4 separate regions of the Homo sapiens genome follow, and regions 2, 3 and 4 are each linked to region 1. The links come from fine-mapping of genetic effects on gene expression. A gene starts in region 1. Each other region holds a variant in brackets. All regions are shown on one strand. Distances are between the middles of the regions.

Region 1 (7,633 bases):
CACTCTTGCCCCCAAAAGAATACTTGGACTAAATTTTTTTTTTTTTTTTTTTTTTTGAGATGGAGTCTCACACCCTCGCCTGGTCTGGAGTGCAATGGCGCAATCTCGGCTCTCTGCAACCTCCGCTTCCCGGGTTCAAGCAATTCTCCTGCCTCAGCCTCCCGAGTAGCTGGGATCACAGGCGCCTGCCACCATGCCCAGGTAATTTTTTGTATTTTTAGTAGAGACGGGGATTCACTATGTTGGCCAGGCTGGTCTCAACTCCTAACCTCTTGATCTGCCCGCCTCAGCCTCCCAAAGTGCTGGGATTACAGGCGTGAGTCACCGCGCTTGGCCTCGACTAAAATTTTATTGAGTTTTTGTTGTTGTTGTTGTTGTTTTGAGATGGACTCTCGCTCTGTCACCCAGGCTGGAGTGCAGTGGTGCGATCTCGGCTCACTGCAAGCTCTGCCTCCCGGGTTCACGCCATTCTCCTGCCTCAGCCTCCCGAGTAGCTGGGACTACAGGTGCCCGCCACCACGCCCGGCTAATTTTTTGTATTTTTAGTGGAGACGGGGTTTCACCAAGTTAGCCAGGATGGTCTCGATCTCCTGACCTCGTGATACACCGCCTCGGCCTCCCAAAGTGCTGGGATTACAGGTGTTAGCCACCACGCCTGGCCTACTGAGTTTTTTTTAAAAGACCAGAGTCATAAGTTCCTCCTACTTTCATTTTTAAAAATGCAAAATCCCAAAGCCCACAAAATATAATGGTATCATCAGGACCAAAGTCATAATTGTCTACCCAGGAAACAGCACTGACATCACCTAGAATCAGCTCAAAGGGAATGTCCACAATAAGCAGGGGAGTCCCTTCACTCACCTGTGACACTATTTGAGACAACCAGTGTCAGGACTGCCTGTTCCCTGCAACAAGTAGCTCTTATCCAATCCTCTGGGCTTTCCATGTGGACTCTCAGAGAGAGCTCCCTGGCAATCTCCCTCATAGGTCGATGACTCCAAACTTAACATCTGCCAGGTGTGTACTCTGAGAGCACCCCAAACTCAGCATGCATGCAATTAAATGTCTAACACCTGCTCCTGTGTCCCTGTGTCTGTTAATGGTATCACTGTCCTCTCAACCACCCAAGACAGGATCTAGTTTTCTTTCCCTCACCATCCCCCACCTTTCCAAGAGCAAACCAGTTTACACGGAAGACTTGTCCATTTCACCTCTACAAGCTCTCATTACCACTGCTCTGACCCATGCCAACAGATCCCACCTAGCTGCCCCCTATCTCTCATGCCCAAAGTGAGTGTACCTACTCTGAACATTACAGATTGATCTTGCTATGAAGTCCCCTTCCCACACCGCTGGTCCCCACTGCCTACCACAGTGTCCCAGGTTTTCAGAACTTGAAGGATCCTCGTCTGACTCAACCATCCATTCACCTGACCTTGGAAGCTTCTCAAATGGAAAATGCCCTGGCCTCACCTTCAAGGCCATTTGTATTCTGGCTCCAATCTAAAAGCCTATAATGTCATGAAAATAGGCGTGAACTACGCCATTTCACAGCTCTTGGGCTAAAGGTCAAAATTCTCAATCCAACCCACAGATCTCCACTTGGCCTGGCTTCCCGCCTTTCTCTCCAGTCTTGCCAAGCTCCCCTTTGCTCTCTCTGCTCCTGCCACCTGGCCTTCCATCCGCTTCAACCCCAAGCCTCTGTACCTGCTGGCCCCTCAGCACCCCACCCCTCACGCAGGTAGTACCATCTCACCCCTCAGACTTCACATCGCTTCCTCAGTGACTTACCTTACCCCTAGACTAAGTCAAGTCCTCTGTTTGTCTCCTGCTCTTTACCTCCACAGCCTTAAACAAAATTACAATAAAATTTTTGTTGGATTTTTTTACTCCCAAGCTGAAATGTGAGCTCCGTAAGAGCAGGACTGTGCCTGTCTTGTATACCACTGTATCTCACAACCTAAAACATAGGAGCCCTCAACAAATACATGTAGGTTAATGGAATTCATAAATCAGAACACCCTAAGTTACAAAAGCAGCTTCACTGCATCAGTGGTCCTGAAGTAACTTGGTTTCTCCATCCATAAAACTAAAGAGCTCATCTGCTCAACGTTCTCTGAGTTCCTCAGAAGACCTAATATTACCTAAGTCTACAATTTTGCTATTCCAAACTCCTCTCTCACAACTCTCTTCCACATAGGCAGCAGCAAAACTTTACTTTCCAGCCTCCACAACTTTGTTTGCACCCTTCTTTCCATCTGTAATTTTTTTCCAGCTCCACATTTCCAAATCCTACTTAACCTTACATGCTCAAATCCAATGTTACCGCCTCCTCAAAGTCCTCCTTGCATCCCTCCAGCTAGCCACAACCTCTCCATCCCTGAATTCCCACAAGTTCCCTGTTGCCTCATTCAGGTCTCAGATCAAATGTCATTTCAAATGAGAACCCTCTCCAAGAGTCACCACCGGTTATAATTCTCTATCAGACCACGCTGTTTTTATTTTCTTGATAGCATTTACCATTACCTGAAATTACCATGTTTATTTCTCTCATTTATTTACTTGTTAAGTGCCTGTTGCTCCCACTAGAATGTTAAGGTCAATGAGAGCAGAGGCCCTGTCTGTCTTGTTCACATTTCCCCACTCCCCCACATCAGACATGTGTTCAGTAAGCTAAATACCTGTCAAAGGCGTGAATGACTCTGTAACCCTTATGACTAGGGTTATGTGCGCACATTATCTTTCTCTTGCTATATTCCAAACTCCCTGTGGACAAGGCCAAAGTCTGGCTAATCTGTCTGTATTATCTGGAAAATCATTGCACAACTGAAGCAAATAACGATAACTGCTAATTAATTTATTGATTTCTCCAAGAGGAACTGCCCCAAACTAAGCCAATTCAGAACTTCATATTGTCCAGAAACCAAGGCAAATAGGAATCTCCTTCCATTCCCTCTTCACCACAGACCCTATTCCAATTTGCCACCTCCAGGGAGCTTTTGCCAAAAGGCTAGTTTCCTCACTTTCCTTTAGAAGGACCACTGGTCCTTCTATCCCTAATATCTTACAATGCTACCCTTTCCCTTTTATCTCCAGCCAACAAAGCATTTCCAGGGCCCTGTTTCTTCAGAGCACCCCACATCTCCAGTGCATCGGGGAACTCATCGGGTCCTAGGGCACATGTGGATGTTAAAAGGAAGTGTTCAAGCAAACCTGGCTCGACCACCTTTCCTTGGATACCTCGTTTAGCTGAAACACGCCGAGTTTTAGAGCGATCGGCTTTGATGCTCTTTGGGTCCCTCAGCATTCTTCCCATCTAACTAACCTAAGCACCCAAATACCGTCGGGGTGCCCCCACCCTTGCCCCACACCTTTTCACCTTCCAACAGAGAAAGACCCCAGGCCAGAGACGATGATCTCCCCGGAAGCAAATGGCCCTCAAACCCCATAGGGCGGCCCTACCCTCTCCACTTTCTGTCCAGCATCTCCCTCTGACCTGGAGCCGTCTCGAACGCCCCTCAGCCCCAGCCTCTGGTTGGACCCGACCCTCCGACACCACCCGCCACTCACCTGAAGCGGCCCCCGCAGTGCTGGCATTGCTCGCCCACCCAGCCGGCGGGGCAGACGCACTGGCCGGTGCCAGGGTTGCAGCGACCGCCGTTGACACAGGGCCGGTCACATTCCTTGGCCTCGGCTGCGGCTGAGCCCGACACCGCCGCCGCCGCCGCCGCGGCCTCGGCCTCACAGGGCAGCAGCAGCAGCAGCAGCGGCGGCGAGAGCAACAACAGCAGCAGCAGCAGCCGTGGCCGCAGCGGTGGAGACAGCAGCCGCGGGAGGCGCAGCCCGGCCCCCAGCCCCGGCCTCCCAGCCCTGGTCACGTCCCAGTCCCAGTGCGGCCCGCCGCTCCTGCCCGCGAGCGCTGCCGTCGCCGCCGTCCTCCTCCTCAGCCTTGCCTCAGTTGCCGCCGCTGCAGCCACCATCTTCCCGGGGCTGAGACGGCGCCCCGCGAACACATACACACACACCGCACGGCCGGCTCCGCTTCGCCTGGCCGTGCGGGGCGGGGCTGTGCGGACGGTGGCTCGTGCGGTCCAAAGGGGCCACAGCGGGGCGGTGGGCGGGGCCGGCGCGCGCGTGCGCGAGTACGTGGGTGCGTGCGTGCGGGGGCGCAGACAGTGGTCTCCGGCGTCCGCGGCGCCGGAGGCGATCTTCTGACGTGGACCGTAGAACGAGCTGAAACCCGGCTGCGCTGTCCCGGCCGGCGAAAGCTCTAGTTTTCCCCCTTCGCCTTTCGTCCCCGGCGGCGGGGTTGCAGCCCCACTGGATGCCTAGGAGCCGACTGCGTTGAGTGTTGCCCTCCTAGAGACCCGGCACTCTGCCCTAACTCCAGCTGCCGGACGGAAAGGGTACAGGAGGCTGCATCGCAGCGAGGTGCTGGGTGCGGTACTGTAGAAGCCAGGCTTCATTCGAGCCTCTGTAACACAAGAGTCAAGAAAGAACACATGTAGAACCTGGCATAGGCCGGGCGCGGAGGCTTACGCCTGTAATCCCAGCACTTTGGGAAACTGAGGCAGGCGGATCACTTGATCTCTGGGATCCGAGACCAGCCTGGCCAACAGGGTGAGACACTGTCTCTACTAAAAATACAAAAATTAGCCGAGCATGGTGGTGCGCGCCTGTATCCCCAGCTACTCCAGAGGCTGAGGCAGGAGGATCGCTTGAGTCTGGAGAGGTCAAGGCTGCAGTGAGCCGCAGTCGCAGCACTGCACTCCAGCCTGGGCAACACAAGACCCTGTGTCAAAAAATGAAGAACCTGGCATGTAGGCTGTGCTCAGTAAATGCCTAATAAACTGAATGAAGACACACAGCCAGGCCTCTTGATAACAGATGGACTGTAGCTGACCAGACCCCCTACCTTTAATTCTGTAAAAGTTTGGAGTTACCTTGCTCCCCACAATTTGCCCTCCAACCATCTTCTCTGAAGAGTGGGCAATATAGAATTAGGAAATGGCGCTCACACAGACCTGCCCCTTCTTGTCTGGTAGTTGTTACTCTGGTGTCCCTCAATGAGACATGTCTTCCATCAATGTAGCCTTTTATGGTCCTTGACCCTGGAATCTGGGCTGGGTCATGATTGAGACCATGAGAAACCATGACTCAATTTCACCAATAGAAGAAGTTGGTAGGAGTAGCAATGTCTTGTTTCTAGCTCTGAGCTTAAAAAAGACCTGGCAGCCTTGGCCGGGCACGGTGGCTCACGTCTGTAATCCCAGCACCTTGGGAGGCCGAGGCGGGCAGATCACGAGGTCAGAAGTTCGAGACCACCCTGATCGACGTGGTGAAACCCTGTCTCTACAAAAAATACAAAAATTAGCCGGGCGTGGTGGCACACACCTGTAATCCCAGCTACTCAGGAGAGTCGCTTGAATCCAGGAGGCAGAGGTTGCAGAGAGTCGTGATCGCGCCACTGCACTCCAGCCTGGGGGACAGAGCGAGACTCTGTCTCAAAAAAAAAAAAAGACCTGGCAGCCTTGATTTTGAGCTGTTGGTGGTCATGAGCTGCACCCCGTTAGCCACCTTGCTGGAGAGAAACCATGTGCAGAGACCACTTGGACTTGGAGAGGGAGAGCTGGGCCGCTCAGCTGGTGGAGCCATCCTAGCTAAGGGATCAGTCATTGAGTGAAGAAGCTATCTGGGTTGGGTTATTCCAACCGTCTGGGCTGTTCCATGTTACCTACAACAGTAACAGGTCTTTCCTAACTGTGACTTATCCAAAATCCTAAGAAATAACTCATTTATCATTTAACCCTTAAGTGATGAATTATTTATAATTTTTCATAAATTATGATTTATGTTATTTTAAGCCTCTAAGTTTTAGAGAGGTTTGTTACTCAGTAATAGATAAGCAGAACATTGTCCGACATAATGCTTGTGCTATGAGGAATATTCCTATGGCACCTACCTCAGAATCTGGGCACCTTACAGTCCCTGGGAAACAAAGAAAAACCCTCATAGACCTGTGGAGCCTCTCAGCTTTACCTCAGAGTATGGAATTTTAAGGTTCTAAGATGGATTTCCACACTCATACCCAGGTCCCACTCTCATACTCAGGTCCTGACTGTCCTCACTGCATCTTCTTCAAGCCTGGTGAAGCTGAATTGCACAAAAGCCTTACCCCCAGCTCTACATCCACACATACTCCCCATTCCTACAGGAAAACTATTGTTCGGCCTAGGCCCTAGCACTGACATTCTGGTTTGCAGGTTATGTTTTTGCCATGTAGGATTTTGAAATTGAAGACATGGCCCTACCCTCTGGCAGGACCCCATCAGATGGGGAGGCTGGCATAGGCCATGCCCTAGCTGTAGGAGACATTGCTCCCCCTAATCTTCCAGGCCAGAAGTGAACCAGCCCTTTCCTTCCCTTCCCTCCCCACAGCAAGACTGAACCCACACTGTGAAGTTTCACATGATTTTACCAACATTCAGGGATAACAGAAAAGGTGTGCATCTGAAGAACAGCAATCCCTAGACTAGATATTGCTACTCTGAAGCCTTAGAATCTTGCTGCAGCAAACATTCTTTCTTACTTCCTTAATCTACTCTCTTCTCTGGTTCTTTTTCCTTAGCTTTCAAACATGCTCAAATTATTTTGTCCTTAAAAAACAAACACGCTGGGTGCAGTGGCTCATGCCTGTAATCCCAGTGCTTTGGGAGGCCAAGGTGGGAGGATCACCTGAGGCCAGGAGTTTGAGACCAGCCTGGACAACATAGTGAGACCTTGTCTCTACAAAAAATTTTTTAAAAAATTAGTCAGATGTGGTGGCGTGCATGTGTAGTCCCAGCTACTTGGGAGGCTGGGGCAGGGGGATCACAGAGCCCAGGAGTTTGAGGCTGCAGTAAGCTATGTTTGGACCACTGCACTCCAGCCTGGGCAACAGATCAAGACCCTGTCTCTAAAAACAAATAAACAAAGAAACAAAATCTTACCTGCTATCTTCTTTTTCCTTTACTGCGTTTATCAAAAAGTCCCCTACACATTCTATGTCTGTGTGATAGATTAAAGATGGCTGCAAATTCTCTTACATTCCTTCTATGGAGAGATCAGGTCTAACCCTTGGCCCCGGCCCCACCCCCACCCCCACCCCCACCCCACTCTGAATCTAGCCTGGCCTTAGTGATTTGCTTGACTGATAGACTATGGTGGAAGTGATGTACTGGGATTTCTGAGGTCCCAGAAATGGGACTTTATGCTAGGTCATAAGAAGTCTTGCAGCTTCCTCCTGAAGTGTCTTGGAACACTTGCCATAAAAGATGTCCAGCTACCCTGAGACCACCATGCTGTGAGGAAGCCAGCCCCCAGCCATTCAAGTCTTCCCAGTTGGGGCCCCAATCATGAAGCAGGGGGGTGTTGTTCCTGCTGAACCCGCCCCAAACTGCAGATACATAAGCAAATAAATGAGCCAACTGGGGACAGTTCGTTACACAATAATAAATTACCAGAATACTCTGTACCCTGGTTCCTCCAAGGACAAGAATAAGTCTTGTGATGTGGACTTGATTAAGAATTAAGAACGACAGTATAATTGTATATAAATGTATAATCTACAACTAGTCATCTATATGTAATACAC
Region 2 (7,633 bases), 47 kb after region 1:
TTAGGTTGTATGTATTTTCCTCTCTTCCTGAGCCATCTGTATTTCTTCCTCTATAAATTTATTAGGGAAACAGGAGCATAGGGGAGCCAGGGTGACACCGTTTAAAAATCAAATCCATTTTAAAACTAGCAAAGTACGGCTGTAATCCCAGCACTTTGGGAGGCTGAGGCGGGTGGATCACCTGAAGTCAGGAGTTCAACATCAGCCTGGCCAACATGATGAAACTCCGTCGCTACTAAAAATACAAAAATTAGCCAGACACTGTGGCGCACGCCCATAATCACAGCTACTCGTGACCAGCCTGGCTAACATGGCAAAACCCCAACTCTATTAAAAATACAAAAATTATCCGGGTGTGGTGGTGGGCGCCCGGCCGGTGGTCATAAGATGTTTACAGTTGAGGAAACAGCTTAAAAACGCTTTAAAATGGGCAGGGCGCAGTGGCTCAGGCCTGTAATCCAAGCACTTTGTGAGGCCTAGGCGGGCGGATCAAGAGGTCAATAGATCGAGACCATCCTATCCAACATAGTAAAACACCGTCTCTACCAAACATACAAAAATTAGCTGGGCATGGTGGCGTGCGCCTGTAGTCCCAGCTACTCAGGAGGCTGAGGCAGGAGAATTGCTTGAACCCAGGAGGCAGAGGTGGCAGTGAGCTGAGATTGCACCACTGCACTCCAACCTGGTGACAGAGAGAGACTCCGTCTCAAAAAAAAAAAAAGAAAGAAAGAAAGCTTTAAAATGCCTCGAATCACTGCAGCCTCGACCTCCTGGGCTCCAACTATCCTCCTGAGCATCTGGGACCACAGGCACATGCCACCATGCCAAGCTAATTTTGTATTTTTTTGCAAGGACAAACTCCTGCAATGGCAGAATGTACACACGTCCCAATATCACATAACAATATATTTTTTTAAGTGATGCACTAAAATGCCAAGGATAGCCTTCTTTAAATCAGCAAAGTACTAAATTTTGTCATGCTGTCAGCCCACCTGCACGTAACCATAATTTAGTTTACCTTTTACATAGACAAGACTCCTATATAAGAAGAGGTTAAAAGTAAGCACGTTCCTCCTGTTTCCTGAGAACCCCCAATTCTGTAAGAGTAGCTTTTAACAAATGGTCTTTTCTCACTGTCCTCTACAACTCACCCTGAATTCTTTCCCGCATGAGATCCAAGAACCCTCTCTTGGGGTCTGGATCAAGACCCTTTTTTAGCAACAAATTAGCTTTTTGTATCATTTGGCCATTTTTGATGGGGGTGTTTATATTTTTGTAGTGATTTAGAAGTACTCCTTTATTTGAAAAAGTTTAAATATGCTGATAAGAAAAAAGGCCAATATAACAAACACCTGGGTACCAATCATCCAAATGAACAAATGTTGATATTTTTGTCATATTTGTATCAAACCTGTTTTTAAGGAAATAAAAATTGAGGCCAGACATGGTGGCTCACGTCTGTAATCCCAACATGTTGGGAGGCTGAGATGGGAGGACTGCTTGAGCCCAGGAGTTCAAGACCAGCCTGGACAACATAGCAAGACTCCATCTCTACAAAAATTTTAAAAACTAGCCAGGTGTGGTGGTGCACACATGTAGTCCAAGCTGCTCGGAAGGCTGAGGTGAGAGGATTGTTTGAGTCTGGGAGGTTGCAGCTTCGGCGAGCTATGATTATACCACTGCACTCCAGCCTGGGCAACAGAGCAAGACCCTGTCTCTTAAAAACATTAATAAATAAAATTTAAATAATAAAAAATTGCAGATGAAAATGTACTTACTGAGTTCACCTTCCCAGTCTGAACAACCACTCATGGTTTTTATACCTTTGCTATGTACATAGTATTGTTTTGGTTATGTTTATTTTAATTTATATTAATGGTGTCAAATTATAAATATTCTTTTGTAGCTCATTAAACCCTGTGTTTCTAAGATTCAACCATATTCATTCATTTTAATTGTATAATATTACCTTGTATAACTCTTCCATGTTTGGTTTATGTTTCACATTTGAGACCCCCTTGATGGATATTAAATCCCTGCCCCCTGCCCCGCCCGCTCCCCACCAGTTTCACTATTACAAAGAACATGGATAAACATCTTTGGTTTTACTTCACATGTTTCCATATGCAAGAGCTTCTTTTTTTTTGAGACAGTATCTCAATCTGTCGCCCAAGCTAGAGTGCAGTGGCACAATCACAGATCACTGCAGTCTCGACCTCCTGGGCTCCAACTATCCTCCTGAGCACCTGGGACCACAGGCACATGTCACCACGCCAAGCTAATTTTGTATTTTTTTGCAGAGATAAGATTTCCTGATGTTACCCAGGCTAGTCTCGAACTGCTGACCTCAAGCAATCTGCCTGCCTTGGCCTCTCAAAGTGCTGGGGTTACAGGCGTGAGCCACCATGCCCAGCTGAGAGTTTCTTTGGACGTGGAATTTCTGGGTTTTAGGGACATATATGTATCTTTTTAATTTTTTTTTGAGACAGGGTCTTGCTATGTTTCCTAGGCTGCTAGTCTCTAGCAGCTCTCTAACTCTGGGCTCAAGCAATCCTCCTGCCTCAGCATCCCAAAATGCTAGGATTATGGGCATGAGCCACCATATCCAGCCAATGTATCTTCTACTTCACATATTATAAAATTGCTGTCCAAAGCGGTTATACCAATTTATACTTTCCACAGAAGTGTATGAGAGTTCCCATTCCATATCCTGGCAATATTAAATAATATCTCAAGCTTAAAATTCTTTTCTCAAATTAATGGATATAATGGTATCTCTTTTTTTTTTAATTTTTTTCAGACAGTCTTGCTCTGTCGCCCAGGCTGGAGTGCAGTGGCGCAATCACGGCTCACTGCAACCTCTGCCTCCCAGATTCAAGCGATTCTCCTGCCTCAGCCTCCCGAGTAGCTGGGATTACAGGCATCTGCCACCACACTCAACTAATTTTGTATTTTTAGTAGAGACAGGGTTTCACCATGTTGGTCAGGCTGGTCCCGAACTCCTGACCTCGTGATCCACTGGCCTCAGCCTCCCAAAGTGCTGGGATTACAGGCATGAGCCACCGTGCCTGGCCGGCATCTCATTGTTTTTAACTTGTCTTTTCCCTCATTGTTAATGATATTGAGCATATTTACATACGTTGAGTTTCTTCATCTGTGAATTGCCTATCCTAATTCTTTTTTTAATGAATTTTATTGTGAATATTTAAGATGTACAGCGTAATGTTATGAGATACATGTATATATAGATAGTAAAATATTTATCATAGTGAAACCAATTAACGTAGCCATCATCTCACATAGTTACCCATTTTTCCCACAGTGGCAAGAGCAACTATACTCTGCACATTTAGCAAAAATCCTGATAAAATAAATTACTAATTGTCGTCCTCAGCTAGGCGCAAATGCTCATGCCTGTAAACCTAGCACTTTGGGAGGCCAAGGGCGGAGACTCGCTTGAGCCCAGAAGTTCAAGACCAGCCTGGGCAACATGGTGAAACCCTGTCTCTAGTAAAAATACAAAAATTAGCTGGGCATAATGGTACACACCTGTGGTCCCAGCTACTTGGGAGGCTGAAGCAGGAGGATTCCTTGAACCCTGGAGGCAGAGGTTGAAATGCTGAGATTGCTTCATTGCAGTCCAGCCTGGGTGACAGAGTGAGACTCTGTCTCAAAAAAACCCCCAAAACCAAAAAACTATATTCCTTATGGAATCACACATTGGATCTTGAAATTTGTTCAATTTACATATTTGCTACTCTGGATCCTTTGACATCTCTCTCAATCTCTTCCTCATCACCCTACCCCTGGTAGCCGCTTTTATTCTCTGTCTCTGTATATTTGACCTTTTCTTTGAGACTGAGTTTCGCTCTTGTCGCCCAGGCTGGAGTGCAATGGCTCACCGCAAACTCTGCCTCCCAGGTTCAAGCGATTCTCCTGCCTCAGCCTCCCAGGTAGCTGGGATTACAGGTGCCCGCCACCACGCCCAGCTAATTTTATATTTTTAGTAGGGACAGGGTTTAACCATGTTGGCCAAGCTGGTCTCCTGGTAACATTAAATAATATCAAACTTAAAATTCTTTTCTCAAATTAATGGGTATAATGGTATCTCTTTTTTATTTTTATTTTTTTGAGACAAAGTCTCACTCTGTTGCCCAGGCTGGAGTGCAGTGGCGTGATCTCAGCTCACTGTAACCTCCACCTCCTGGGTTCAAGTGATTCTCCTGCCTCAGCCTCCTGAGTAGGTGGGATTACAGGCACCCGCCACCATGCCCAGCTATTTTTTTTATTTTTAGTAGAGACGGGGTTTCACCAGGTTGGCCAGCCTGGTCTTGAACTCCTGACCTCAGGTGAT[G/C]CACCCGCCTCCACAAAGTGCTGGGATTACAGGCGTGAGCTACCGCACCCGGCCTGTAGTAAATCTTAATGGCTAATAGCTTTATAGTAAATCCTGCTATCTGGTAGGGCAAGTTCTCTCTCCTTGTTCATCTTTTCCGCAAAGAACTTTCCTATGAATGACCTTAGGGAGCGGGGGGTTTTTTTCTTTCTTTCTTTCTTTTTTTTTTTTTTAGATGGAGTTTCGCTCCGTCTCCCAGGCTGGAGTGCAATGGCACAATCTCGGCTCACTGCAACCTCTGCCTTTGGGGTTGAAGCGATTCTCCTGCTTCAGCCTCCCAAGTAACTGGGATTACAGGCACGCGCCAACATGCCCGGCTAATTTTGTATTTTTGGAAGAGACGGGGTTTCTCCATGTTGGTCAGGCTGGTCTCAAACTCCCGACCTCAGGTGATCAGCCCACCTCGGCCTCCCAAAGTACTGGGATTACAGGCGTGAGCCACTGCACCCTGCCAGGGATCAGTTTTTAAAGTTCCTTTTAAAATATTCTGTTGGGATTTTGTTAGAAATTGCATTTAATTCACAGGGTAACATGGAAAGAATCAATGTTGTAATGAGCATTCTAATAATCATGGTATATATTACTTCTTATTCTGTCTGTTTTAGTTCATAGTCCCTCTCCTCCTGCTGCTCAGTAGTGGACCTAAGGTAAGGATTTGAGTGCAAGTACCTTATGTGGGAGGTAATCCTAGGAAAACGAGCAGCAGAGTGGGGAAGAGATTCAAGGAAGGGAGAGCAGTCGATTGCACATTATCAAGCAAATGGGCAACTGGAGCTTAATCCTGCTGGGAAACCCTTAGAATAGCTACAGAATGTGTGTCCCAGAGTTATCCTACCTGACAAGTGAGAAGCTGGGGTATTTACGCAACTTCCTTCAGTCATTGACTGAGAGCTCAGCTCCTAGCAGGCATTAATTCCCCAGCTCTTCTAGCCTCCTGACCCAGCGTGCAAGGAAATGGTAAGTGCCAAGGAGCACTAACAGTGTCTGCTAAGCTACCGAATGGTCTTAAAAATATATATGTAATATATATAAACACATATTTATATATAATAATAAATATATATTATATATTAATACATAATTATATAAAATATATGTGAAATATATTTAGGAAAACAAATTATATAAAAATATATTATAGATTATATATTAAAATATATTAGATAATATATATTATAATATATAACTATATGTTAATGTGATTAACATGTTGTATAATATATGACATATGTTATATATAACATATACAATATATTATATATGTTTAATATATTATACATTTTTAATATATAATACATTTTACTATCTATTATATATACATGGAGTACAAGTGCAGCTTTATTGCGTGCATATATTGCTTAGCAGTGAAGTCTCGGCTGTTAGTGTACACATCATCTGAATAGTGAATATTGTACCCAATAGGTAATTTTTCAATCCTCACCCTTCTCCCACCCTCTCACCTTTTGTAGTCTCCAATGTCTATTATCCCACTCTGTGTGTCTATATGTACACATTATTTAGCTCCCACTAATAAGTGAGAACATGTGGCATTTGACTTTCTGTTCCTGAGTTATTTCACTTAGGATCATGGCCTCCAGTTCCATCCATGTTGCTGCAAAAGATATGACTTCATTCTTTTCTATGGCTAAGTATTACAGTATTCCATGGTATATGCACATACTACATTTTATCCAATTCTCCTTTGACAAACACTTAGGTTGATCCCCTGTCTTTGTGATTATTGTGAACAGTGCTGCAATAAATATTCCAGTGCAAGTCTCTTTTTAATACAATGATTTCTTTCCCTAAAGAGTCTTTTGGAAATTCAGACACAAGCAACTTTCTCCCCTGCCTAAAATTTTTTGTTGTAGAGAAATTCAAAATTGTTGACATGGCCTATGGGTTTCTACACACTGGCTACGAACTCCTTTCCTGCTTCACCCTGCCACCTCCTTTCCCAGGAAGTTTGCTCTCTAGCCCCGCTGAACCATTGTCCCTCCACTCCCTCAGAGGCAGCCAGATTCTGTCAAACCCTCGCTTCTTTGCATTTGTTGTTTTCTCTACGTCTAATGCCCTTCCCTTATTTTTCTTCCTAGAGAAACCCTTCTGGGAACCAGAGTGGTTAGGAACATGGACATTGAAGTTAGAGCTGGAATCGAAACTCAGTTCGAATGCAGCCACCTTTTTGCTTTGCTGAGTGGGAAATGCAAGAGGGAGGCTAGAGGTAAAGCTGGGCAGGCTTGAGAGTTTTTGAGAGAAATGTTGGAATGCTGGGGAGGAAAAAGGTTCAGGAAGGGCTGAGGAGGTTTGCCATCTGAGTTTTGATGTTTCTCTTTATTGTTTCTCCATGGAAATAAATGTATTTATTTATTTAATATTTTGAGACAGCAGGGCCTTGCTCTGTCGCCCAGGCTGGAGTGCAGTGGCGCGATCTTGGCTCACCACAGTCTCTGTCTCCCAGGCTAAAGCGATCCTCCCACCTCAGCGTCCCAATTAGCTGGGTCTACAGGCGCACACCACCATGCCTGGCTAATTCTTTTGTATTTGTTGCAGAGATGGAGCTTTGTCACGTTTCCCAGGCTGGTCTTGAGCTACTGAACTCAAGCGATCTACCTGCCTCAGCCTCCAAAAGTGCTGAGATTGCAGGTGTGAGCAATTTAAATTTAAAATATAAATTTCAAATTAAAAAAATTTTTTGGCCAGGTGCAGTGGCTCACGCCTGTAATCCCAGCACTTTGGGAGGCCAAGGTGGGCAGATCAGCTGAGGTCAGGAGTTCAAGACCAGCCTGGCCAACATGGTGAAACCCTGTCTCTACTAAAAATACAAAAGTTAGCCGGGCGTGGTGGCAGGTGCCTGTAATCCCAGCTACTCAGGAGGCTGAGGCAGGAGAATCGCTTGAACCCAGGAGGCAGAGGTTGCAGTGAGCCGAGATCACGCCATTGCACTCCAGCCTGGGCAACAAGAGCGAAATTCTGTCTCAAAAAAAAAAATTTTTTTTTAATTTTTTGTAGAAACAGGGGTCTTACTATGTGGCCTCAGCTGGTCTTGAACTACTAGCTTCAAGCAGTCCTCCCGCCTCAGCCTCCCAAAGTGCTGAGACTACAGGATTGAGCCACTGCACCTAGCCTCTCCATGGAAATTGCCATAAAATGTAAATTATTTGTCAAGGGAAAAAAATCTTCTCTGACAGTTAATTTGGGCAAGTCACCTAACCTTTCTGAGGCTGTTTCCTTATTTGT
Region 3 (7,633 bases), 35 kb after region 1:
CAGCCTACCCTCAAAGGGGTTGGGGAGAAGAAGTAAACTTCTTTTTGCAAGGTGGAGAGCATAGCTACTTATGTTATTTGAAATTCTTCTATAAGGAAATTTGTCCCTTTTCTGTCATTTATTTTTCAATCATTTTCTCTCTGTAAATATGGCCTCATCTATACTTATTTACACTTTGGGTTACAATCCAATACCACATTATTTATTTTGGTTCCCAAATTGGTCTGGCTTTGGCCATTGGAAACTCCTCAGAGTTGGCTGTGGTATCCCTCTGACTTTTTTTTTTTCTTGAGTACTTCCTTGCCTTCTGGTCTATCAGGTGCTCTGGGCTCATCTTGCATTTTCCTTGCCTTGAAATAGCTTCAGTCATTTTTTCAAGAAGCCCTGGTTTTTTAAAATCAGAGAATGGTATTTAGAAACCATTCTTGGTTTAGAAACCAAGATCTGGGCACTGGATGTGCTTGTTTTATTGGGTGTCACTGCTCTTGGATCTCTTAGCAGAGGGTTAGAATAATATGTATGTGTATACTAATCCATTTAGACACACATTTATTTCTAAAGTTATTTCTGTATTTACTCATCTGTGGGTGTGTGTATATGCACACACACACACATAAATATGAATTCATACTAATTTCTGTGTGTGCGTATGTGTGTGTGTGTGTGTGTGTGTGTGTATGTATTTTGAGACAGAGTCACACTCTGTCGCCAGGCTGGAATGCAATGGCACAATCATAGCTCACTGCAGCCTCAAACTCCTGGGCTAAATCAGTCCTCCTGCCTAAACCTCCCAAGTAGCTAGGACTACAGGTACATGCCACAATGCCTAGCTAATGTTTTAAATTTTTTGTAGAGATGGGGTCTCTCTATGTTGCCTAGCCTGGTCTCAAACTCCTGGCCTCAAGGAATCCTCCCACCTAAGCCTCCCAAAGTGCTGAGATTACAGGCGTGAGCCACTGTGCCCAGCCTGTGTGGATATTTTTTAATTAATTCATTGTTCTAGGTTCCTGGTAAGACCTTTCAATGCAGAAACTTGTGACTTTGTGTTAGGGAAGCAGGAGCCTAGAAGAGCCAAATTAAAAGTTCAGCTCCATCTGGAGACTAACAGGGCACATTCCTTGCCAGTCACTACCCATGATTACAGATGTTTATAGTTGAGGAAAGACCATAAAGACACCTACGAGGACGCACTCCTCCGTCAGAGAGTTCAGATGTCCCAGTACCCATAAAAACACATGCTTTCAAGATAATAACAGTTATGGCAGGGTATGGTGGCTCACACCTGTAATCCCAGCACTTTGGGAGGCTGAGGAGGGCAGATCACTTGAGGTCAGGAGTTTGAGACCAACCTGGCCAACATGGTGAAACCTTGTCTCTACTAAAAATACAAAAATCAGCTTGGCATGGTGGCATGCACCTGTAATCCCAGGTACTCGGAAGGCTGAGGCGGGAGAATCGTTTGAATCTGGGAGGCAGAGGTTGCAGTGAGCCGAGATTGCACCACTGCACTCCAGCCTGGGCGACAGAGCAGGACTCCATCTCAAAGATAAAAAAAGAGAAGAAAGATAATAACAGTTATGCTCTGATGGACTCACACACTGAAATGTCAAAGAGGCCGGGCATGGTGGCTCAAGCCTGTAATCTCAGCACTTTGGGAGGCCGAGGCGGGCAGATCACGAGGTCAGATCGAAACCATCCTGGCTAACACGGTGAAACCCCATCTTTACTAAAAATACAAAAAATTAGCCGGACGTGGTGGCGGGCGCCTGTAGTCCCAGCTACTCGGGAGGCTGAGGCAGGAGAATGGCGTGAACCCGGGAGGCGGAGCTTGCAGTGAGCCGAGATTGCGCCAGTGCACTCCAGCCTGGGCGACAGAGCGAGACTCCGTCTCAAAAAAAAAAAAAGAAAAACTCTGTGTGTGTGTGTGTGTGTGTGTGTGTGTGTGTGTGTGTGTGTGTGTACCCTCGTGTGCTCGCACAAACGAACAGAGCTAGAGTTAAAGGAATTCCAAGGACAATTTGCTGGGTAAAATTCAAGACTGATTAATTTTCCACAGGGCAATAAAATCATTGTATTTAACCACACAACCAGGCTATAAAAACATAGAACCTATTAGTCTCTAAAGTTAAACTATACCAGGCTATAAAAACATAGAACCTATTAGTCTCTAAAGTTAAACTGTAACTTTATAGAACCATAAAACTGTCTGTTTCTTCAATCATTATGGATTGATTACATACATTGTGGCAATGGAATTTCATTCCCCTGGTGTGTCCCATGAGGGTAAATTCCCAGGATGCAGGTTCTGCTTTTATTGAAACAGGGTTTGAAAAAGTGTTCCCCTAAGATCTCAGGAATTAGGCAATCATAATTTTGCCATTTTCCCAAGTGTGGAATCATTTCCTCTTTAATACCTGTGTCAGGTGAGAATGTCTGAAATATGTGTTTTGTTTGGTTTTTTGAGACAGGGTCTCACTCTGTTGCCCAGGCTGGAGTGCAGCAGCGTGTTCATGGCTCACTGCAGCCTTGACCTCTCAGGCACAAGCTATCATCCCATCTCAGCCTCCTGAGTAGCTGGGACCACAGGTGTGTGCCACCACGCCTGGCTCATTTTTGTAATTTTTTTTTTTTTTTTGGTAGAGATGGGGTTTCACCATGTTGTCCAGGCTGGTCTCAAACTCCCAAGCTCAAGCAATCCACCTGCCTCAGCCTCCCAAAATACTGAGATTACAGGCCTGAGCCACCATGCCTGGCCTAGAACATCTGAAATATTTATTCTCGACATCACTAGCTCAATCTTGTTTCAATGTCTGTTCTTTTTGTCCTTGTGAGTTTTGTCCTTTTTATTTTTTAACTGTTATTTTAGTGAGGTTTGGAGAGGACGTAGGCCCAAATGCATGGACTCAATTCCCCACTTTTAAAAAATTTTTATTTTATATTATTTTTTGGTAGAGACAGGGTCTCACTATGTTGCCCAGGCTGGTCTTAAACTTCTGGCCTCAATCAATCCTTCTGCCTCAGCCTCCCAAATTGTTAGGATTACAGGTGTGAGCCAACAAGCCTGGCCCAGTTCTGCTTTTTTGATCCCACATTTCCTCCTGCTCTCTATTGTCCAGGACTTTCATCAAATGCCTGGCCTTTTGGCTTTTCAGTTTCCTGATGCTGCTGTAGATGTATTACTTTCCCTCTTTCATGTCTTTTCTACATTTCACCAGGAGTGTTCAGCAAGAGTGACAGTGTGCACTTGTGTGCTTTATACACTCCCTTGATCCAGGTCTTTTCCTGACTATATCAACACTTGGTTCCAAATAGCAAAGAGCTCTCCATCTTTGGGGATAGAAGCAAACTGTTCCTATTACTCAGAAAAACCATTGCTGTAATGTTGCAAGAATTAATAGGTATCTTGTCTGCTATAGTCTTCCCAAGGCAGGAAAAAAACCATAAGCATCTCCTTTCCAGCCCTGACCTCTCCATTTCTTCCTCACCCCCTTCCACCTCCAGAAGATGCATCTTCGTTTGCTGGCATTCTGGCCTTCTTTGCCTCAGAGGATGCCCTTGTCAAGTTCTAGCTGTATTGCCTGGTGGGTGTGAAACCACTCTTAACATAAACTCCTCAGCTGGTCCTTGGCAAGGGCTTTTCCTCAACTTTTCAGATTTAGTGGGTGTTTCAGATTTTAGTTTAGTGGTAGTTATATATGCAGAATCCCAGGCCCCACTGGAGGAGAGGGAGAAGGTGGCTTGCAATCTACATTTTTATGGAGGCCCTCATGTCAAAATCTGGGACAATCTCAGCCTCATATGAATAATGCAGGAATGGATTATTATATATTGAATCAAAAGGAATCCATGTGTCTCTATTGATATTAACACCAAAAATTTTGGCCTGTGCTCACACCTGTAATCGCAGCACTTTGGGAGGCCAAAGCAGGAGTATCAGTTGAGCCCAAGAGTTCGAGGTTACAGTGAGCTATGATCATGTCACTGTACTTCAACCTGGGTAACAGAGAGAGACTCTGTCTCAAAACAACAACCACCACAATAAATAAATAAAACAACCAACAATGGTATTTTATTTTATTATTATTTTTCTTAATAGAGACAAGATCCTGCTATGTTGCCCAGGCTGGTCTCGAACTTATGGGCTCAAGCAATCCTCCCACCTCAGCCTCCCAAAATGTTGGGATTACAGGCGTGAGCCACTGCACCTGGCCAACACCAAAAATTTTAAAGGGGGTAGAAAAGAGGGCCAGGTGAGGTGGCTCACACCCGTAATCCCAGCACTTTGGGAGGCTGAGGTGGGTGGATCACTTGAGGTCAGGAGTTCAAGACCAGCCTGGCCAACATGGCAAAAACCCATCTCTACTAAAAATACAAAAATTAGCCAGGCGTCCTGATGCCCATCTGTAATCACAGCCACTTGGGAGGCTGAGGCAGGAGAATTGCTTGAACTTGGAAGTCAGAGGTTGCAGTGAACCAAGATGGCATCACTGCACTCCAGACTGGGCAAGAAAGTGAGACTCCATCTCAAAAAAAAAAAAGAAAAGAAAGCTCTTCTTCATAAAAGAATGCCAAATTGTGAATGTAGATGGAATGATAGAAATGGAAAAATCATCATTTTATGACCAGTCTATTAATAATTGATTCAGGCAGGCATCATCAATGGAATGTAAAAC[T/C]ATTAGGATAAAGGGGGTTGGGAAAAATGATATTCATAAGGTTTGAATGTATCACCCTACAGGCTGTTTAGTAATCGCAAAAGGGAAAACGTATCTTTACCACAGAGAGAGCTGAAGGTCACCACGTTGACCATCAGATTACACTTAGCATCACCATCAACGTGAAAATTGACTGGTGTGTTGCACTGAGAAGACACAACATCACTTAATGTTTCTACCAATAATCTAAACCCAGATTTATTTTTAAGAAAATCAGGTTGGCCAGGTGCGGTGCCTTATGCCTGTAATCCCAGCTACCTGGGGAGGCAGGAGAACCGCTTGAACCCATGAGGCAGAGGTTGCAGTGAGCCGAGGTTGCGCCACTACACTCCAGTCTGGGCCACAGAGCGAGACTCCGTCTCAAAAAAAAAAAGAAAGAAAGAAAGAAAGAAAATCAGGCCGTTATGATGTCATCTTGATTTTAAATACAAAGGCTTAGTCAGTGCACATGATCAACACTTTGAACTTTCAGTTCCCTTCTACCACAGCCTCCTATATGTTCTAGAAGTGTCTAAGGGAGACTCTTGTGCAGTGCTCTCAGAATCTTCCATTCTCCCTCTGGAAATGTCACCTGCCAGGCCTCTGTTGTATGAAAAGAGTTAGCATGGCCTCTTATGTTTTTGCAAAGTGCTTCCAATGCCAAGGTTACTCTATGCTGAAATATGCCTTGAAGCCACTTTCTTACATTATGATCCCAAAGGGACCACTTTAGACTTCCAGCATCTCACCAAGATTTTTATGTGACCATCATCCAGTTTATGTCATTAGTCCTTAGGACTGAGAAGTGGGTCCAGGGTGGCTTACAGGGGAAAGTGGCTTAGTCAGTATTGTCTTGCTGGTCTTGCTCTCTGGGGCATGGGATTCTTATTCCAAGCACCCATCCAGTCACGTAGCTCACGCTGGAACTCTCATCAGCCCATTGATATCTTGGAGTTTAACACAAGGAAGTATTGCACAAGACAAGCCAGAGACCCATGGACATAATGGCTGCCAAAGCAGAGAAGGGGAGGTGACAGATTTAGGAGACAGCAGCCGCCCTCACCCTCACTGTCCTCTCTGTTCCTCCTCTTTCCTTGGAAAACAGGCCTTCCTGGGGACCTCCTGCTCCCCTCAGTTATCCAGACTCTACCTGTCTTTTGTTTATACTAATGATAGCATGCTAGGTACAGTGTTCTCCATCTTGCTTTTTTCATTTAATATTTTTTTTTTTGAGACAGGATCTTGTTCTGTCACCAGGGCTGGGGTGCAATGGCACCAACACAACCCACTGTAGCCTCGACCTCCCAGGCTCAAGCAATTCTCTTGCCTCAACCTCCTGAGCAGCTGGGATTATAGGTATGTGACACCATGCCCAGCTATTTTTTAAAAAATTTTTTGTAGAGACAGGGTCTTGTTATGTTGATGAGGCTGGTCTTGAACTCCTGGGCTCAAGCAATCCATGTGCCTTGGCCTCCCAAAGTACTGGGATTACAGGTGTGAGCCACTACACTCAGCTCAACATTTTTTATATGTACAATTTGTTCATATCCTTTATCTTTGTCTTTTATATCTTTAAGAGAACTCTTTACCACCTTTTTAGTGAGGTTTCTGGAGAGGGTGGAAATGAGTATTTTCTATCCACCACAAGGTTTCCTTGGAGTTTACAAGTATATGTTGATATCCCCTGAAAATCTAGATAATTTTGTCTCCTCTTTTCCAATTCCATACTTCAAATCTTTAAAGATTTAAAGACTAGGTGTAGTGGCTCACACCTGTAATTCCAACTCTGTGAGAGGATCACTTGAGCCCAGGAGGTCAAGGTTGCAATGAGCCGTGATCATGCCACTGCATTCCAGCCTGGGTGACAGAACAAGACCTTGTCTCAAAAAGCAAGCAAGCAGGCAAACAAACAAACAAAACACGCTTATTATGGAAAAGAAGGGGGCAGAAGCCAAACTAGGGAGAGGAAGAAGTTAAACTGTGATGCAGGCCTAATAAAGCTTCAGCCAACACGGCAGGGAGTTTTTGAGTGAGAATTGCTCATTAAAGTGTCCCATGTTGACCCCAAAGAGGGAGGTCTTTATGCCTCCACCCGACTCAGTCATTGCACACTGGCTACCTTTGGAGGGACTGACCACATTCTCTGCAGCCAGGCAGCAAGTTCTTCCCTGAAGGGAGATCTGGGCCGCATATCTCTATGTCTATCACAACTTATCCATTCCATCAAGGTGGTGGGGAGGATTTGATATATTGCAGGGGATAAGCAAAGAGGAATTTTTTTTTTTGCAGCTTTGGACATTCACAATGGAGTTTTACTGCAAATCAATAGGCTCCAAAGCAAGATGTTGTCAAGAGGAAAATCGTTTTCTAAATTCCTTTAGTTTTCATTTGACATATGAAGACTCTGAGGTTGGAGCATTTCTTCCATAGTGTGCTTTCAAAACCTAGGCCTAGGCCTGAGGGTATGATGGAGAAGAAAATGAGGGAGAGGTAGCAGAGAATGACTATGGAATACATGGGCCCTAGTCTCTCTGTTCTAGACTGAATCATGAAGAAGCAGAGGTAGTTTGATAATTCAACTGGGCTTCAAGGGCAGGAGGCATTTGATCTATTCCATATTTGGGATTCTGGAAGGAGGCCACCATGTAGAATGGCCCTGCTTGAATCCAGTTAAGAGTAATGTGCAGAATGGTTAAGCAGGGTTACAGCCTCGACTGGCCTCCTGTTATGATCCTTGGTAGAGCAAATGCTGAGAGTCAGTAGGTCTGTCCTGGGGCCGCAGAGGGTGCTGAGTGGACTGATCAGCATGGACGGGAACAGAGGGGGCAGAACCAGGACTCAGAGGTGTCCACAAGGCAAGCGAAAGCCAATGAGAGGCTAAGTCATCAGACCCAGCTCAAACAGAAAAAGATGGATCTCCTCAGTGACAGACGTCAGCAAGT
Region 4 (7,633 bases), 24 kb after region 1:
GAAGATCGCTTAAGCCCGGGAGTTTGAGGCTACAGTGAACTATGATTGGCCACTGCACTGCAGCCTGGGCAACAGAGCAAGACTGTCTCTAAATAAATAAATAAATAAATATGAAAAACAGGGCTGGGTGCGGTGGCTCACACCTGTAATCCCAACACTTTGGGAGGCCGAGGTGGGTGGATCACGAGGTCAGGAGATCAAGACCATCCTGGCCAACATGGTGAAACCTCGTCTCTACTAAAAATACAAAAATTAGCTGGTGTGGTGGCGGATGCCTGTAGTCCCAGCTACTCAGGAGGCTGAGGCAGGAGAATCACTTGAACCCGGGAGGCAGAGGTTGCAGTGAGCCAAGATCGTGCCACTGCACTCCAGCCTGGCGACAGAGCAAGACTCCATCTCAAAAAAAAAGAAAAAAAGAAAAACAGAACTATTTCTCTCTGAATCTCTCAGTTCTCTGGGCTTCTTTTCTGTTGAAGTTCCCTTCACCTTGTTGGAAATATGGCCCATATTCTTATAGTTCATGATTTCAAAGGAAGGGAGAGAGACTGTCATGACAGACTGGGTGTAGGAATTCCAGAAGAGTCTTTGAACCAGGTTGGGCACTCTGACTGATGTGTATCGTATATCCATTCCTGTGTCTGGATGAGGCATTTCAAACTACTCAAGCTGCTCCACACAAGACAGAAGAGTTTTGTCATGGAAGAATGGAAGAAGAAAAAGCCTGTAAGTATTGAACAGCTGCCATATTCATCTCAACCTTTCGTGTCTCACTTATGAAAACTTTCCTCCCTCTGAATTTTAATTTTTAATCCTCCAACATATTTGCTTTTAGAATTTTTGATATTTTCATTTTAGATCTATATTTCGCCTAGAATTTATTTTTATTGATGGTATGAGGTAGAAACCTAACTTAATTCTTTTCCAATATATAAAACCTGTTGTCCCCAAACCATATATTGAGTACTCTCTTCTTCCCAACAGTTGGAAATGCTGCATTCATTAAAGCTAAATTCTACATTTCTGTGGGTCTGTTTCTTGATTATGCAGTTTGCTCCATTGATCTGTTCTTCTATGCATGTAACAATTCCCTGTTGTTTAAATATTGGTTAACTTCTCTTTTTTTTGGAGATGGAGTCTCGCTTGCTCTGTCACCCAGGCTGGAGTGCAGTGGTGCGATCTCGGCTCACTGAAACCTCCTCCTCCCGGGTTCAAGCCATTCTCCTGCCTCAGCTTCCTGAGTAGCTAAGATTACAGGCACATGCCACCATGACTGGCTAATTTTTGTATTTTTTTTTTAATAGAGACAGGGTTTCACCATGTTGGTCAGGCTGGTCTCGAACTCCTGACCTCGAGTGATCTGCCTGCCTTGGCCTCCCAAAGTGCTGGGATTATCGGTTAACTTCATTGGGAAGCCCTGCTTTTTACTTGATCCTAAACTTCTAACTGGTATGTTTTGATTCTCTCTGGTCTTGTGTTCCATTAATCTGATTCTGCCAATTTTTCTTTATTTTTTCAATAATTTTAAAATTGATTTCTAATTGTTAATTCTTACCAAAGCAACAAATGAAAATGGTTTAAAAAGTAAAATAGTGCTGTGAAGCTCAAACTGAAAAGCAACCCGTCTGGGCAACAAAGTGAGATGCTGTCTCTACAAAAGAATGACAAATTAGCCAGGCATGGTGGCACCCACCTGTGGTCCCAGCTATTCAGCAGGCTGAGGCAGGAGGATTCCTTGAGCCCAGGAGGCTGGGGCTGCAGTAAGCCCTGGTCATGCCACTGCATTCTAGCCTGGACAATAGAGCAGGAGCCTATTAGAAAGAAAAAGAAAGGAAGGAAGGAAGGGACAAGGATGGGAGGGAAGGGGAGGGGAAGGAAGAAAAGAAAAACTCCATTTCCCAATCCCACCCAAGGTGAGTGCTAAAATTATTTCTCCTTGCATTTACATCCATAGTTCCAAGGAACATGCTTATAGTGCCAATTTTTTTTTTTTTGAGACAGAGTTTTGCTCTTGTCACCCACGCCTGGCCTATAGTGCCAATTCTTGACTTTTAAATACATTAACAAATTGGCTGGGTGCAGTGGCTTATGTCTGTAATCCCAGCACTTTGGGAGGCTGAGGTGGGTGGATCACTTGAGGTCAGGAGTTCAAGACCAGCCTGGCCAACATGGTGAAACCCTGTCTCTACTAAAAATACAAAAATCAGCTTGGCATGGTGGCATGCGCCTATAATCTCAGGTACTCGGGAGGCTGAGGCGGGAGAATCGTTTGAACTCGGGAGACAGATGTTGCAGTGAACCGAGATCGCACCACTGCACTCCAGCCTGGGCGACAGAGCGAGACTCCATGTCAAAAAATAAAAATAAAAATAAAATAAATAGATAAGTAATAAATTAACAAATCGATTAGACAAAAGCAAACAACTCAATAGAAAAATGAGTAGGTATTCTGGATACAAGTCCTTTCTCAGACACATATATGGCAAATATCTTCCACTCTCTGGCTTACCTCTTCATTCAATGTCATCTTCTGGTGGACATAAGTTTTTAATTTTCAGGGCCAGGTGCAGTGGCTTACACCGTAATCCTAGCACTTTGAGAGGCTGAGGCAGGCGGATTGCTTGAGCCCAGGAGCTCAAGATCAGCCTGGGCAACATGAGAACCTTTCTCTTAAAAAAAAAAAAAAAAAAAAAGGCCGGGCACGGTGGCTCACACCTGTAACCTAGCACATTGGGAGGTCGAGGTGGGCAGATCACCTGAGGCTGAGGTCGGGAATTCGAGACCAGACTGACCAACGTGGAGAAAGCCCGTCTCTACTAAAAATACAAAATTAGCTGGGCGTGGTGGCGCATGCCTATAATCCCAGCTATTCGGGAGGCTGAGGCGGGAGAATTGCTTGAACCTGGGAGGTGGAGGTTGCGGTGAGCCAAGATCATGCCATTGCACTCCAGCCTGGGGGAAAGAGCCAAACTCAAAAAAAAAAATTCTTAATTTTTATGTCCTTGAATTTATTGTTTCCTTTATAGTTAGTGGTTTTTGTGACCTGTTTAAGAAATATTTGTCAGGCCAGGCACCGTGGCTCACACGTGTAATCCCAGCACTTTGGGAGGCCTAGGCAGGCAGATCACTTGAGGTCAGGAATTCGAGACCAGCCTGTCCAACATGGCGAAACCCCGTCTCTACTAAAAATACAAAATTTAGCCAGGTGTGGTGGTGCACCTCTGTAATCCCTGCTACTCGGGAGACTGAGGCAGGAGAATCGCTTGAACCCGGGAGGCAGAGGTTGCAGTGAGCCAAGATCGTGCCACTGTACTCTAACCTGGGTGACAGAGAGAGACTCCATCTAAAAAAAAAAAAAAATTGTCTACTCTTTGACAGTGAAACATTTTTCCTACATTTTTTTCTCTGAACATTTCATTGTTTGCCCTTAATATTTAGATGTTATAGTGTGTATGGTATGAGAAAGAAGTCAATTTTCATTTCTCCATATGGATACTAGTGCTGATAATTTACCTTTCCATTTTCTGCTTGTGAACACTGGGACTGGGGCCTGTGAATTATGTTTCTCAGCCTTCCTTGTTGATCGTTTCCCATTAGGCTCTCCAAGAAGAGATACATGGGCAGGAGATCAGAAGGCAGCAGAAAGAAGTCTTTCTTCTTTTTCCTTTCTTCTCAGTCTTTCCTTCTTCCTCTTTGAAGTGGAGGCCCCTCCTTCAAAGTTGAAGCTCTGGCAACATGTTCCTCCTCCCTGGGCCCAGCTCCTTTCTCTGCACTCTTAGATTCTGGTGGCACCACCTCCCCTACATTTGTTCCCTAAATGCTAGAAGAGACTGGAGTTACTTTTCTCTGGGTTACCTCATCTTCTTTTTGATCTTTCAGATTTCCATCACCTGTCTAACCACTTCTCTATACCAACTTTTCTGTTTCAGCACCATTTAACCGAAAAGGCTCTCCTTTCCCTGCTGCTCTGCAGAGCCATCTTTGTCATAAATTGTTTAAATATGGTCTAGTTTTCTATCTTAACACCAATACCATACTGTCTTGAGTACTAACTTTTAAAAATTTATTTTATTACTATTATTTTTTTAAGACAGGGTGTCGCTCTGTCACCCAGGCTGGAGTGCAGTGGCGTGATCACCACTCACTGCAGCCTCCACCTCCCAGGCTCACGTGATCCTCCCACCTCAACCTTCCTAATCACTGGGACCACAGGCACTCACCACCTTGCCCAGCTAATTTTTGTGG[T/G]TTTTTTTTTTTTTCTTTTTCGTAGAGATAGGGTTTCGCTGTTTTGTCCAGGCTGGCCTCAAATTCCTGGGCTTGAGCGATTCTTCCTCCTTGGCCTCCCAAAGAGCTGCAATTACATACATGAGCCACCACACCCAGGTTCTAACTTTTTAGTAAGTCTTGGTATCTGGTAGAACGAGTCCTCCCACCTTGAGCCAATATCACGCTCCATTACTGTAGTGATTAAGGAAATGCTTTTTTCTCTATTACCCGAAGGAGTCTGTGTAAGACTGAAATTATTTATTCCTTAAATGTTAATATGACTTGCCAGTAAAGCCATGTGAGCCTTAAATTTTCTTTGAAGAGAAGTTTTAAATTATGAATTCAGGTACTTTAAAAGTTAGAGGAGTTTTTCAAGTTTTCTATTTTTTCTTGTATCATTTTTGTATTTTCCCTAGGATTTCCACCTTAATTTTTAAATTGATTGATATAAAATGTGTCCATAATATCCTCTTTTTAGTTTTTAGAATTTATAGGATCAGAAGTGATGCCTCTGTTATATTCCTGAGACTGTTCTCTTTTTTCTTGATCAGGATCACAAAAGGTTTATCAATTTCATTAGTCTTTTCAGAGAACCAATGTGTGGCTTCATTAATCCTCTCTTTTGTATGCTTGTTTTCTAGTTAATTAATTTTTTCCAGGTGGAAGCTGGGGCTGTGGAGAAAACACACACACACCACTCAAAGTAGAGAGAAAATGGCTTTCCCCCCTCTACCTGCTAGTTTTCTGAGAATGCCCCTATCGGCTGAACCAAAGTCTAGGACATGTAGCTCCCTGTATTTCAGAGTAGAAAAGAGAAAGGAAGAAAAGAATAGGCAGAAAGAAAGAATGGCAAACAACAAGCCTGTAGATCTATTTTGTCAGTTTCTGCAAGAAATATGTTAAAATGTCTCACCATGATCATAGACACATCTATTTCTACTTCTAGTTCTGTTGATTTAGCATTTTATTTTGAGGACGATATTAGTAGGTGCCTACAAATTTAGAATTATTACATCTTCCTGGAAAATTGCCTTTTTTCTGAGACGGAGTCTTTCACTGTCACCTAGGCTGGAGTGCAGTGGTGTGATCTCGGCTCACAGAGTGCAACCTCTGCCTCCTGGGTTCAAACAATTCTTGTGCCTCAGCCTCCTGAGTAGCTGAGCTTACGAGTATGTTCTACCACACCCGGCTAACTTTCATATTTTTAGCAGAGACAGGGTTTCGCCATGTGGGCCAGGCTGGTTTTGAACTCCTGGCCTCAAGTGATCCACCTGCCTCCCAAAATGCTGGGATTACAGGTGTGAGCCACTACACCCAGCCAAAATGACATTTTATCATTGTGAATTATGAGTCTTATATTTGTCTCAGTTCTTCTTTTTCTTTTTTAATATATAGAGACCGTGTCTCGCTATGTTGCCCAGGTAGGTCTCAAACTCCTGGCCTCAAGTGATCTTCCTGCCTCAGCCTCCCAAAGTGCTGGGATTACAGGTGTGAGTCACTGTGCTCGGCCTGTCTCAGCTTTTCTAACACCTATTCCTCTCCTTTCTTTCCTTCTGACTGATTAATATAGTTCATTATTCCATTTTTTGTTTCTGCTAATTTGAATGTTAAACAATCTTTTTCTAGTAATTTAGCAGTGACCCTCAAAATCATAATGTTTATCATTGCCTCATCCAGTCTAATGTGAATTGATCCATTAACCCTCCTCCTGGGCAATGCAAGGACCTTAGAACACTTTTAAGTCCTTTTACACACACCTGACATATGGCCATTGTTGCACATATGCATGTAGTTTTTTGTTGTTTTTTTTTTGAGACTGAGTTTTGCTCTGTCACCAGGCTGAAGTGCAGTGGCGTGATCTCAGTTCACTGCTGCAATCTCCAACTGCATGGTTCAAGCAATTCTCCTGCCTCAGCCTCCCGAGTAGCTGGGATTACAGACACACACCACCACGCCCAGCAAACTTTTGTATTTTTTTTAGTAGAGACAGGGTTTCACCATGTTGGCCAGGATGGTCTTGATCTCCTGACCTCATGATCCGCCCGCCTCAGCCTCCCAAAGTGCTGGGATTACAGGCATGAGCCACCACACCCTGCCTACATATGGTTTTTATCCAACAAAACATCATGACTATCATTTTAAATGACCAATGTACATTAATATTTACCCACATTTTACACTTATATTTACCCACATATGTTCCATTTTGTTACTCATTATTTCTTTCTGCATCTCTGGTCTTCTATATTAGAGTCATTTTCTTTCTACCAGAAACACACCTCTTATACTTTCATTTAGTTATGGTCTATAGATGACAAAGTATTTGTTTCTGAATTCTATTTCTTATTTTTTAGAGACCGAGTCTCGCTCTGTCGCCCAAGCTGAAGTCCATTGGCACAATCAGGGCTCACTGCAGCCTCCAACTCCTGGGCTGAAACAATCCTCCAACCTCAGCCTCCCAAGTAGCTAAGAATACAGGCATGTGCTACCACACCTGGCTAATTTTTTGTTTTGTTTTGAGATGGAGTCTCGCTTTATTGCCCAGGCTGGTCTCAAACTCCTGACCTCAAGGGTTCCTCTCACCTTGGCCTCCCAAAGCACTGGGATTACAGGCATGAACCACACCCAGCATTCATTGAGCTTTAAACTTCAGTTATTCCAGTTTTTATTTACTAGAAACTCTAATAACTGAATAACTTCAGTTATTCTAGTAAACTAATATTTACTAGAAAATTATTAGTTATTCTAGTAAATATAATACTATATTACTAGTAAATATAATATATATTATATTTAATATGATGTTGAATATACTAATATAACACTATAAATATTACTATTATAATAGTACTATTATATTACTAGTAAATATAATATTTAGTAGTTATTCTAGTAAATTCTAAAATTTACTAGAATAACTTATTAGAATAACTTCAGTTATTCTAGGTTTTATTTACTAGAAACTTTAATTGATATTTTTCTAAAACTTGTTGGTCAACTTTTAGCATTTGCTATCTCTTATAGATATTTTTCAGGCTTTTCATTTATTTCTTTAAATATTTTAAGTGTACTTTTTATAATCTGTCTGACAATTCTAATATCCTAAGCCTGTGTGAATCTGTTTCTAGAGTTGGTTGTTTCTGCTGTTTCTTTCTCATGTTATCTTATTTTCTTGTTTATTATCTTTGACCTCCTGCTGGTCATCACCCTTGAAAATGTATTTTAGGTGCTCCCTAAGGCCCAGAATGGATATATCAAGTTCCAGAGAGACCTTCTATTTTGCTTCTGTTTCATCACTCAATGACTTCCTCAAACTAAGTTCACAGCTGTCCCCTCCAGGTAGCACAGACTGTTCCAGGTACAAGTCAGG

Direction of the effects. Alleles are on the strand shown, and positions count from the first base shown. SD is a standard deviation of normalised expression in the study named. Not every link is listed here.
As copies of G replace C in region 2, the expression in macrophages of the gene that starts at base 4,070 in region 1 goes down (large effect, 0.83 SD a copy in Alasoo 2018).

What was found. PIP is the estimated chance that this variant, and not a neighbour inherited with it, causes the effect. A credible set is the group of variants that fine-mapping cannot tell apart.
Region 2: its variant is the best candidate, but not a certain one, in a credible set for the expression of ATRN in macrophages (Alasoo 2018, PIP 0.55).
Region 3: its variant is the best candidate, but not a certain one, in a credible set for the expression of ATRN in blood mononuclear cells (TOPMed, PIP 0.82).
Region 4: its variant is the best candidate, but not a certain one, in a credible set for the expression of ATRN in nasal epithelium (TOPMed, PIP 0.69).

The regions. Positions count from the first base shown.
Region 1 is chr20:3,467,455-3,475,087 of GRCh38, reverse strand. It overlaps ATRN (attractin), which reads right to left and starts at 4,070. Exons shown (of 29, transcript NM_139321.3): 1 at 3,571-4,070. The coding sequence starts at 3,980. RefSeq lists a silencer at 3,684-4,243 and an enhancer at 4,344-4,483.
Region 2 is chr20:3,420,935-3,428,567 of GRCh38, reverse strand. LOC105372508 (a long non-coding RNA gene) reads left to right here. Exons shown (of 3, transcript XR_937212.3): 2 at 6,490-6,617. Among named protein-coding and RNA genes, the nearest start is that of DNAAF9, 17 kb to the right of the region's middle. The variant G/C (reference allele first, on the strand shown) is at 4,355.
Region 3 is chr20:3,431,960-3,439,592 of GRCh38, reverse strand. No RefSeq gene overlaps it. Among named protein-coding and RNA genes, the nearest start is that of DNAAF9, 28 kb to the right of the region's middle. The variant T/C (reference allele first, on the strand shown) is at 4,674.
Region 4 is chr20:3,443,635-3,451,267 of GRCh38, reverse strand. No RefSeq gene overlaps it. Among named protein-coding and RNA genes, the nearest start is that of ATRN, 24 kb to the left of the region's middle. The variant T/G (reference allele first, on the strand shown) is at 4,243.